3 linked regions of the Homo sapiens genome follow. The protein of the gene in region 1 purifies or fractionates together with the protein of each later gene. This does not show direct contact. Each region holds a gene or a part of one and is shown in the gene's direction. Other genes may lie near its edges.

Region 1 (2,678 bases):
ACAGCTTGCTCGCGCCACTGAGCTTTTCCTGAGGTTTGTGTTCGCCTCTCAAGGAGAGCTTTGATCCTCAGTGGTACGGATGACTTGATGGGCTCCATGCGGAGCCTGGCCTGCATCCCCCACCACACAGCTCACTCACCCACCAGCTCTAGACTGCAGACGCACAAGGCCTCTGCTCAGAAGCCAGAACACAGCACCTGTGACTCTGTTACTTGAATTTTGTGCTTTTTGATTGGAGTCCTTTGTTGAGTACTTTGTTAATTGAACACTGCCTTTCTCTGGAGAAGGCCCCAGTGCTTTCTAGCTCCCTCTCACTCCTGCCCTTTCTAGCTCTCTCTCACCCAGCGGGTCAGGGATAGCACCTCTTGTCTCCACTATGCAGATGGGAACTCTGAGCCACACAGAGGTGAAGTAGCACTTCAGTTACTCAAGGTCAGTACTCTCGGTATTCCAAGTGACTTAGCCACATTTCCTTCAGTGCAATAGGTGGGTTTAATGCTCTTTGTACACAGATGTATTGGCTACATAGCGTGTAAAAACCAAGACTGGGAAGCCATTCACTAAAATCCCTCCTGACTCAAAGGACCTGTCTCCAGATGGTACAGAGTCCCTTGATGGCATTTTACAAAACCAGCTCTGACTTCCTTATCCTGAACAGGGAGTTTATTTTAAAAATGCTTCATGCACCTGTTATTTGGCTGAACAGAAGGCTCACTCCTCAATCCCCTTCTCCTCGCCATCATTAGAGGAATAGACTCAGCCTTCATGTTTGTCTCTGGAAGACGATTGGCGATACTTGCAGGAATATTGTTGATGCAGCCAATATTAATTTGAGCTAATGGATTGTTAATTCTGAAACGAAAACTGTAACTGTAGAGCAGGCTTTTACTATGAGAGGTACTACTTTTTATAATAGAGAATGTGGTTGTGTGGGCTTTTTTTGAACAGAAAACACAACAATGACCTATACCGTGAGAAAAGCCATTTTATCTTCTTCGTGGTATTTTTACCCCCAAAGGAACTGAAGATGGAAAATATGACTAATAAGTTATTGCAGTTTTGGTCTTGAATTCTGTGCCATCTGAAGTTAGCATCCAGCTTCTTAAAAAGCAGCCACGCCTACAGCCTGTTTTTTGGGAAGGCTGTAGGTGGAGAGATGGGCTTATTTTGCATACCACCCTCAGGGCCCAGAGACCCACTGCATTTTCCAAAGTTAAGCAAATGACACCATTTTCTTCCATCAGCTAAACTTTACAGATAATAGTGTTTCCACCTCATATCCTTTTCTTTGCCCCTTCTCAAATGAGTCAGAATAGTCATGTTCCCCTTGAGGGATGTCTGACTTGAATGGAGAATTGTTCTTTCCTCTCTTGAATCAGCTCACTAGCTCCCTGATGGTCTGGGTTCAAGGAAATGGTTAATGAGGTAGAGGCCACTTATACAAGTCCTTGGGATTGTACCATTGCTGTCCACAAACTTAGTATCAACAACACATGCTGTGCCCTGTGAACACTCTCCTCTCACCTATTTCCAGGGTTGGTCTTCCTGAGAAGGGGATGGATGAGGTAACACACAGTTTGGGATACGTATCTGTTGAATGAATGAATAAGTGAAAGGATAATAGTCCTCTGAGGTAAAAATGGCCTTGTCAGAATTTTGAAAATCCAACAGATTCCTATTAAAGCACTCTGTGTACCAATAACATGCATGCATTGTACCAAGTAATCACAATGTGAATTGGTCAATTTATGAGCCTTGCCTACTTTAGAAAATAAAGAAACCTGCAGTAGCCTCTACCACACAGCATGTACAAAGACCAGTATGGACTTGCTATCTTCCCTATGTATTGGACACTGTATGCAAACACCAGAAGTACTTAACAAGTAGTGGTTTCTTGATTTTTAGATATGTCTGTAGCCTCTTAGCCCTTTTGCCGGGAATCAACTCATTCTGATGCCTCTGCACCTCAGTTCCTCTTACAAAAGCCTCCAGATGATCTAAATCTAGTTAGCAATGTCAGCCTGTGGACTGCAGCTGTTTGGGACATTGTATTCCTTTGTTTGTCTCTTGTTGTTCTGAAGGATTGTATTGATCACAAAGCTATATGCATAAAGATTCTCATTGTTGTAACTGTTCTGCCATTTTCTGAGTGCAAGCATGGAACACTGTTGTGACAGTCCCTTCTCCCTTCTTCCTTCTTCCTTCACCCCCAACCCCAGACCCCCCTTGGTCACATGAACCAGGGAAACAGCCCAATAAGCTCTATCTCCCCCAGTCTAATCGCTGGGTTGCAGGGTGGCCTGTGACCTGCCCAGCATTTGCAGACTCGCTGGTTCCTGAATATGAGTAAGCACAGAGTTTACCTAGAGAGTTTACCTAAAATTAACCTTTAGATCTACTATTTATTTTTGTCTTAATAAAATGAACAATAAATATAGTTTAGCTGCATGGCATTAAGGATTCTGTATGAATAGATGTATAGTTGCTGCCATCTCCCCATATAAAAACTCTCTTTACATCGTTTCTGAGCCACTTTCTTTGCTGTCTGCAGCATTTAAAATATATTATTTTTCCTAATTAGAAAAGTCACAGGTTTTAGAAAATTGGGAAAACAAAAAGAGCATAAAGAATCATCAATACTCTGATATAGATATAGATCTTTCCAGTACGTTTGTGTA
Region 2 (4,137 bases), on another chromosome or scaffold:
AACACAGAACTCAATAAAGCAGTCTGGGTAGAGTTATAGAATTAGAGTTGTGACCATATATATGGTAATTAAAGCCAAGTGAGTGAAAAAGATTATTTGGGGGAGGGAGTATATGTATCCTAGCCCTGAGAATGTCTGACTTTCAGAGGTCAGATAGCAGAAGAGTGGCCTACAAAGGTCACTGAGGAGAGGGCAAAGGAGTAGGAGGAAAAGCAAAAGAGTAAAATGTCATAGATGCCATAGAAAGTTTCAAGGACGAGGAAATGGTTAACGGTGTTAAATGTAGGGGAGAAGTCAAGCAAAATAAGGACCAAAAATACCTTACTTATTTATGGATTTATTGACACTGAGGGTCATTGTTTGTGTATCTCATTGAGAAGTTTCAGTGGGGGAAGGAAGCCAGACTGCTGAGAGCTAAGAAATGAATGAGAAGTAAGGGAATAAAAATTGCAATTTCACCTGTGAAGTACATTTTCAATACATTTGCCCATAAAGAGGACCTGAAGAGGGACCTCCTGTGTAGGGAGGTTCTTTTTTTAAGATGGTAGATACTTGAGCATGTTTAATTGCTGATGTGAAATGAGGGGGAGAGGGATGGGAGAGGCAGGGAGAGGAATCTGCAATTACTGGGTAGGTATAAACATTTTCAAGTCTATTGATACATATTGCTCACGTGCTTTCTAAAAGGGTTTTTAACCAACATATGCTGCTATCAGCAATTAAGACAGCTTGTTTGGTGGCTACTTTGTCATCATTAAGTGTTATTAAAAAATAAAAAATATCTTTGCCAAAGAATCTCATTATTGTTCTAATTTGCTTTTCTTTGATTACTAGTGAGTTGGATATTTTAACCAGTTGTGTCCTTGAGTGTGTATGTATGAATTTAGTCTACGCTTTTGCCCAAAACGTTTCTATTTTAGACAGACATTTATTTGCCATAAAAGGCCACAAGTCAAAGGATCAGAATGGTATTATATTTTATTTACTCAAATTAGATAGTTCATACTCTTTTATCTTCTTAGAAGTGTGAGACAATTTGACAACTTTTGACTCAGCTGAACGAAAGAGACAGGTGATTTCACCGTCTAAGAGAGTGACCAACAGATGGAAGTAAGTGGGTGAGGAGGCACGTCTAGTGTTAGACCCCTATCCTCAGTCCCCAGGCTCCCATTCCTAACCTGGAAGGACATTCCTCTTGTGTCTCAAGGCTTTGGGTCCCAGAGCTCCCTTTTGGGCTGAGTGGCCCCCTGCTAAGGAGCCCGGGGCGCTGTGCGGCCCCTTTAAGAGTCCAGCTCCTCCCCGCTCCAGGGAAAGTTGCAGCTTTTTCCGCCTCCCGGGAGGGTGAGAAGGGCCGGCTGCCGGAGCTGGGTTGCGATCTTCCCGGAGCCGGAGACCCTCCCTTGAAACCGGCACTGGGACTTCTCGATCTCTGGAGGCACCTGTTGCAAGTGACAGGTAGGTCAACAGCCAGCGGCCGGCCCCTCGCCCTCGGTCCGGTGCTCCTTCTGGACCCCCAGCTCCTTTTCGCTGCTGAAGCGCCCCCACCCCCATCTCGGGGTCGTGCGTCTTCCCTACCCGCTCTCTGGTCCCCCAATTTTTCCTTCTCCCTAGCTGACCGCGTCTCCCCTCTCCCCGTCCGCCTCTCCCGACCGCATCCCCAGGCTTGGACTCCCGTCTGCTTGGGCGGTCCCTCCCGGCCACTTTTCTTTCTCCAGGGCTTCTTCTGGCCCCTTCCCTGACCCACCCAGCACTAATGCGGTCTGTGCCCCTCTGGGAGCCGCCTCCCCTCTCCTCTTCGGCTCCCCTCGCGGGGAGTGCCCGGGCTTTTTCCCGCCAGCCCGAGCTGGTGCCCCTCCCGAGAGCTGGCCCTGGGGGCGGGGGCGGGGCCGAGCTCCTAGCGGGAACTGCGCCCTCCAAGGCGTCCAGTCACCTTTTCGTGGGTTCCTCTCACAGCGCTCGGCCGTCGAGCGGGGTCGCTAACCCGCACTCTCTTCGGACCTACGACATCGCGGCTTCTCTGGCGTTGGCCAGTCAGCCACAGGTAAAGGCTGGAGGCTGGTTGGCTGGAGTCCTGCCTCAGTGGGCTCCCTCTGCGCTTGGGGCTGGGGACCTGGCTGTGTGCTGTGGAGCTGCTTTATATTGCCGCTCTTCAAGCAGGCTGTGAGAGATCTGGTACTGGAGGAGGGTCCCCGAGATCTCAGAAGGGGCACAGAATGCTTCTGTCTCCTGTGTTGGTTTGTAATGGGGCAGAAAAAGGTGTTCCTCCAACCCTTAACATTGAATGAGGTGGGATTTGGGGTGGTGAAATCATTTGGTTAGAATTCTGGTGGCTTGAAAAGTGGTGACTTTCTAATCAAGCTTTTCTTCCCCCAGTACCCTGCTTCTTCAGGATTAGAGGACGTAAAATTCCAGAGTACTGTGCTTGGCAGGGTTGACCCTAGACCTTGTATATTTGTGGCAAAAATGAGTCTTCTGTACATCCTGGACCTCCTATATTTAACTGGCTTATTTTCTGCTCTTTAAGCTCCCCACCCCCACCTCTCATAAATCTATTAATATTGAGGTATTAATGACTTAAGACTTTTGTCGCTGTGGGAACAATGTTTAATGCAGAGACGTGGCCTTGATGAAGTTTTCTGCGTTTTTGGTTGTTTGGTTTTTAGCACCCTAGTAGAAAAGCACCACCAACTTGGCTTGTGAGGCCCTTTTTGGGCAGAGGATGAACATTTCTGGTAACACAATTTCAGGTGTCTCACTCTTGGTCAGAGCAGTGAAATGGAGCTGGAGGCCTGTTCTGGGGTAATTGATCTGTGAGTATATGTAGCATTCTGGCTCTCTGAGCTTGTTAGGCTCTGGTTGTTAGGCTCCATTGAGCTGGACACTGTGATAAGTTCTTTACATAAAAATGCAATCCTCACAATAACTCTATACAGTAGGTGCTACAGTTATAACCATATTATGATGAAAAAGAGACTGAGAAGTTAAGTGCCTTGCCCTCAAAATCTCGGAGGCAGAGCTTGTGTTCCTATCCTGTCACACCACCTCTGTTGTCTTAGATGTTGGGAACACTGAATAGCTCATGGATGAGGACTAAGTGATTAAAAAATTGTCTTCCAAGCCCAAGTATATGTTTTTCTCCTTGCTTCCACCTTAGATGCACTGCCGAGACTATGGACTACTTACCTTACTGATGTCTTACCCACTTCATTTCCAACATGGGCCAGTTGCCACGTTACCACTATAAGTACACATCCCTGAGTGTAATTAGATGAATGAAATCTCCCGGGTTTTCAGCTCTGTGGTAATTGTCCTGAAGTTAGGGGAGGGTAACCCTGGATTCTAGGGATGTGTGCCTGACTCAACTTCTTCCTCTCCTGCTGGCTAGGGGAGAAATGAGGGAGTGGTAAGTGATATGGATTTCCTGACAGCCATACCAGAGAGCCTGAGGGTGATCGTGTGCTAGTTTTGTCATGGGATGGATGGAGTACCATAGACAAGGATAGGAAGAAAATGTCCTCCCTATTCCCATCTCTGGGACTTTGCTCAAACTGTTCCTTTTTTTCTTCCTAAAAAGCTAACTTTCCTCCCTCATTCCCCCTCCCCTGACATTAATTCCTATCCATCCCTCAAGATTGAGTTCTAAAGTCACCTCCTTTGGAACGGCCTTACTGAACACATACTTCTTCCCCCAAGCAGAATTGCCAGTTATCCTGTGTCCTAAAGCACTTTGTTTACACCTCAGTAAAGCCCTTAACACTGCTTAGTTGTTTTTCCACCTGGAAGGCTGTAAGTTCTCTAAGGGCAAGGTCTGGATCTCGGAGCTCCCTTTGTCTTAAATATAAGATGTTGGCAAATATTTGTGCCAGTAACCGGACATACCATGCCATTCCTTCAAGGGGCTGAGGTGTAGTGATGGTGGGGTTGAGGTACAGAAGACACCTTCCTGAGGCACTTGAAATACCACAGCTAGGAATTTGCCCTGACCACCCTATTTAAACGTGTAATCCCTTCCCTGAACATTCCATATGCCCTTTCCCTACCTTATTACATTGTTCTTGCTTATTGTCTGCCCTCCCACTCCCTCACCCACCATAACATAAACACCCTGTGGGCAGGGATTGCTGTCTGTTGTATTCA
Region 3 (3,164 bases), on another chromosome or scaffold:
CTTAATTTCTCCTTCATTCTTGAAGGGTAGTTTTGCCAGATTTAGAATTCTTAGCAGACAAGATTTTTTCCTTTCAGGATTTGAGCTGTGTCATCCCACTGCCTCCTAGCCTCCATGGTTTCTGATGAAAAACAGCTGTTAATCTTATTTGAGGATACCTTATACAGTCAGCCCTCCATATCCACAGGTTCCATATCTGCAGATTCAGCCAACCACAGATTCAAAATTCAGTATTCACAGGATGCAGAACCTGTAGTTATGGAGGGACAACTTTTTCTATCTATAGGTTCTACAGGGCCGACAGCAGTACTTGCATATCCATGGATCTGGGTATCTGTGGGAATTCCTGGAACCAATCCCCCATGGATACTGAGGGATGACTGTATGTGACAAGTCACTTCTTTCTCACTGCCTTCAAGACTCCCTCTTTGTCTTAGGGTTTTGACAATTTAGTATAATGTGTTTCACTGTGAATCTCTTTGCCTTTATCCTGCTTGGAGTTCATTGAACTTTTTGGATGATTACATACATGTCTTTCATCAGATTTGGGAAGTTTCTGGCATTATTTCTTCAAATATTTTGTTGCCCCCTTCTTGCTCTTTTCCTTCTGGTACTCCTGTAATGTGTATGTTGGTATACTTGATGGTGTCCAATAGGTCTGTTAGGCTCTGTTCATTTTTACCTCATTATTTTTATTTTCTTCTCAGACTGGATCATTTCAATTGCTTTATCTTCAAATTCACTGATTTTCTTCTGCCTGCTCAAGTCTGCGGTTAAACTTCTCTAGTGAATTTTTCATTTCAGTTTTTGTACTTTTCCTAAAATTTCTGGCTTCAAATAGGAAGCAGGGAGGGGCTCTGTGCCTTTAAATTTTCCAGTTGATGCCACTAGTGGAAGCCATTGCATCCCAAGGAATGTCTAAACCAAGACAGGCATCTGCTGGGACCCACCAGATCAAAGGGCACAACCCCAAATTTTTGGAGGACAAGGTCCCACTGCCTACCCTGGCCAGCTAGCTACTCCAGGAATGTGAGCTGCTATCCCCATAGCTTCAGGGGAGCTGAAGAGAGGGGGATAGTAGCTGGGTCACACACACAGTTCCCTTAGCAAAGATCAGCAGCCTCTCCCTTTACCAATCAGTCTCCCGATTGTTATAAATGTCCAATCAAGTTCCAGAGTTATGAGATAGTTGACAATCACTGTTTCTACTTCAAGGTAGCTTCAGTGGAGGGACCAATCCCTAGGGCTTCCTACTCTGCCATTTTATGTGATGTACTCTTCTCCCATTCTACAGGTAAAGAAACTGAGGCATAAAAAATTCAGGAATTTGCCCAGGGTGGTGCCAGGATTAGAGCTCAGCTGTCTACCTAAAAAAAAAAACCCATGCCCTTGGCCACTTCACTATAGTGCCTCTCCATATGGTTTGCACCTGAGATGTATTTTATATTCTCCCTTAGACAATTTTTTAAAGAATGCTAGAATTGGGAGAGTGCTTACAGCCCTCTGATCTCCAAGAAGCCTAAGTCAGGGCTTCTCTCCCCACTAAATACCTCAAGGGTGAGGAGATCACATTCTCCTAGTCCTGAAGTTCTACCTAATTGTCGTAGAAATCTTTCCATGATATATGCCAACTCACTTTTGTGAATTCACTTAAACTGGCTATTTTTAGGGGTACTCAAACTTTACATGGTCTTATTCTTCCCCATAGGCACAACTACAAGAGCGGAATGACCCTCAGCAACTGCTATTAGATGCCAAGCACATGTTTCCTGTTTTGTTTCCATTTAATCCATCTTCTCTAACCATGGACTCAATCCACATCCCAGCGTGTCTCAATCTGGAATTCCTCAATGAAGTCTGAAGATGCATGTTTCCAGCATTAGTTTGATTCCCAATGTGAGCAAGAAGGAAGTATATACAGTAAAGTAAATTCAAGGATCTGTTAAATCTGGTAAAAGTAGATCAAATCAGAGATTGACAGCCTGTGGAGGGTGCTGAACTATACAGAATTAGACACAACTATGTCATTATTTTTTGTACCTACTGCTCAGAATAAAAACACTTGAAATATGGAAGATTTTAAGTTTGATTTCAGTCCAACACATATACATAATTTATAGACACCAAGCAGTCCCCATAGACATATAAAAGGTGTCAATTCTATAAAACGAAGCTGCCTAGTTTTGATCTTTGCATAGAACTAGAGAATGTCCAAATTAAAATACCAAATATATATAAGTCACATAAATTGCCTTCAAAGGGCTTTAACAAATAATGGTACTAATAACCATGATAATGGCATATACTGACATTTCCCAAAGTTTGCAAACCATAGGTGTGGTTGAGTTTGTGGTGAGATGTTTTAAGAACAAAAATATGGGGATGAGACTTCTGAGAAATATTCCCAAAATATTTTTTAATGGCTGATTATACACAGACAGTGGTGTAACTGACCTCCAGACCAGACATTTTGAGTACTGGTTTCTGAAGCAAAATTAGAAGTGCCAGTCCTCAGTGTGCTCAAACGCTTTTGTGTTATCTTGATTTAATGGAAGAGATTATTAAAATGCTGCTATCCCAAACTCCAAGTGAGAAAGATGGAAAAATATTTTGTTTCTGATGCTAGTCCATACACTTTCCAAGTCCCACAAAACTTTCACAAAAATGTATATAAGCTAAATATTAGAAACGGATAACAAACTTGTTTTATTTATAGATGTAAAAACCAAACAAGTCAATATGAAAGCTTTTAATCTCTTAATACCATTAAGCTTCCAGTAAGAGCATCACATAATGCTCTACTGTTCCAGAAACCAAATAGTAAAACAAACTAAAGTTCGCACATCAGATCATCTGAAAAACCTTCAAAAATAATCAGTTCAGGGATATTATACAAAAGTTTGGGTTTTTTTTTTTTAAGAGAATAAAATGGCTTAGGTCAACTTTCCCTTTTCAGGTTATTTTCAACGTTTTTCAAATTTAGCACACAAAAAATTGTAAATATCTCTCCCACAAAATAAGGATTTTAAAAAAGTAATTCAGTAATATAACAGGCTTAGATGTTTGCTGCTCTTAGAATTTTTTTTAACTTGTTTTTGGTTTCTTCAAAAGCAAGCATTCAATTGGAAACCCATATTCTTTCCACACTTTTTTTTACTGTCTTT

Evidence for each region.
Region 2: the proteins of TBC1D30 (region 1) and SYTL4 purify together in Homo sapiens (affinity purification with western blotting, with the first as the bait; one study listed by BioGRID). This does not show direct contact.
Region 3: the proteins of TBC1D30 (region 1) and MYO5B purify together in Homo sapiens (affinity purification with western blotting, with the first as the bait; one study listed by BioGRID). This does not show direct contact.

What each region holds. Positions count from the first base shown.
Region 1 is NC_000012.12:64,876,504-64,879,181, forward strand, and holds part of TBC1D30 (TBC1 domain family member 30), read left to right. Parts: 3' UTR 1-2,678. UniProt on the Homo sapiens protein: May act as a GTPase-activating protein for Rab family protein(s).
Region 2 is NC_000023.11:100,729,322-100,733,458, reverse strand, and holds the start of SYTL4 (synaptotagmin-like protein 4), read left to right. Parts: upstream 1-1,337; 5' UTR 1,338-1,455; intron 1,456-1,924; exon of another isoform or gene 1,925-1,953; 5' UTR 1,954-2,041; intron 2,042-4,137. UniProt on the Homo sapiens protein: Modulates exocytosis of dense-core granules and secretion of hormones in the pancreas and the pituitary. Interacts with vesicles containing negatively charged phospholipids in a Ca(2+)-independent manner.
Region 3 is NC_000018.10:49,825,168-49,828,331, reverse strand, and holds part of MYO5B (unconventional myosin-Vb), read left to right. Parts: intron 1-1,708; coding exon 1,709-1,861; 3' UTR 1,862-3,164. UniProt on the Homo sapiens protein: May be involved in vesicular trafficking via its association with the CART complex. The CART complex is necessary for efficient transferrin receptor recycling but not for EGFR degradation.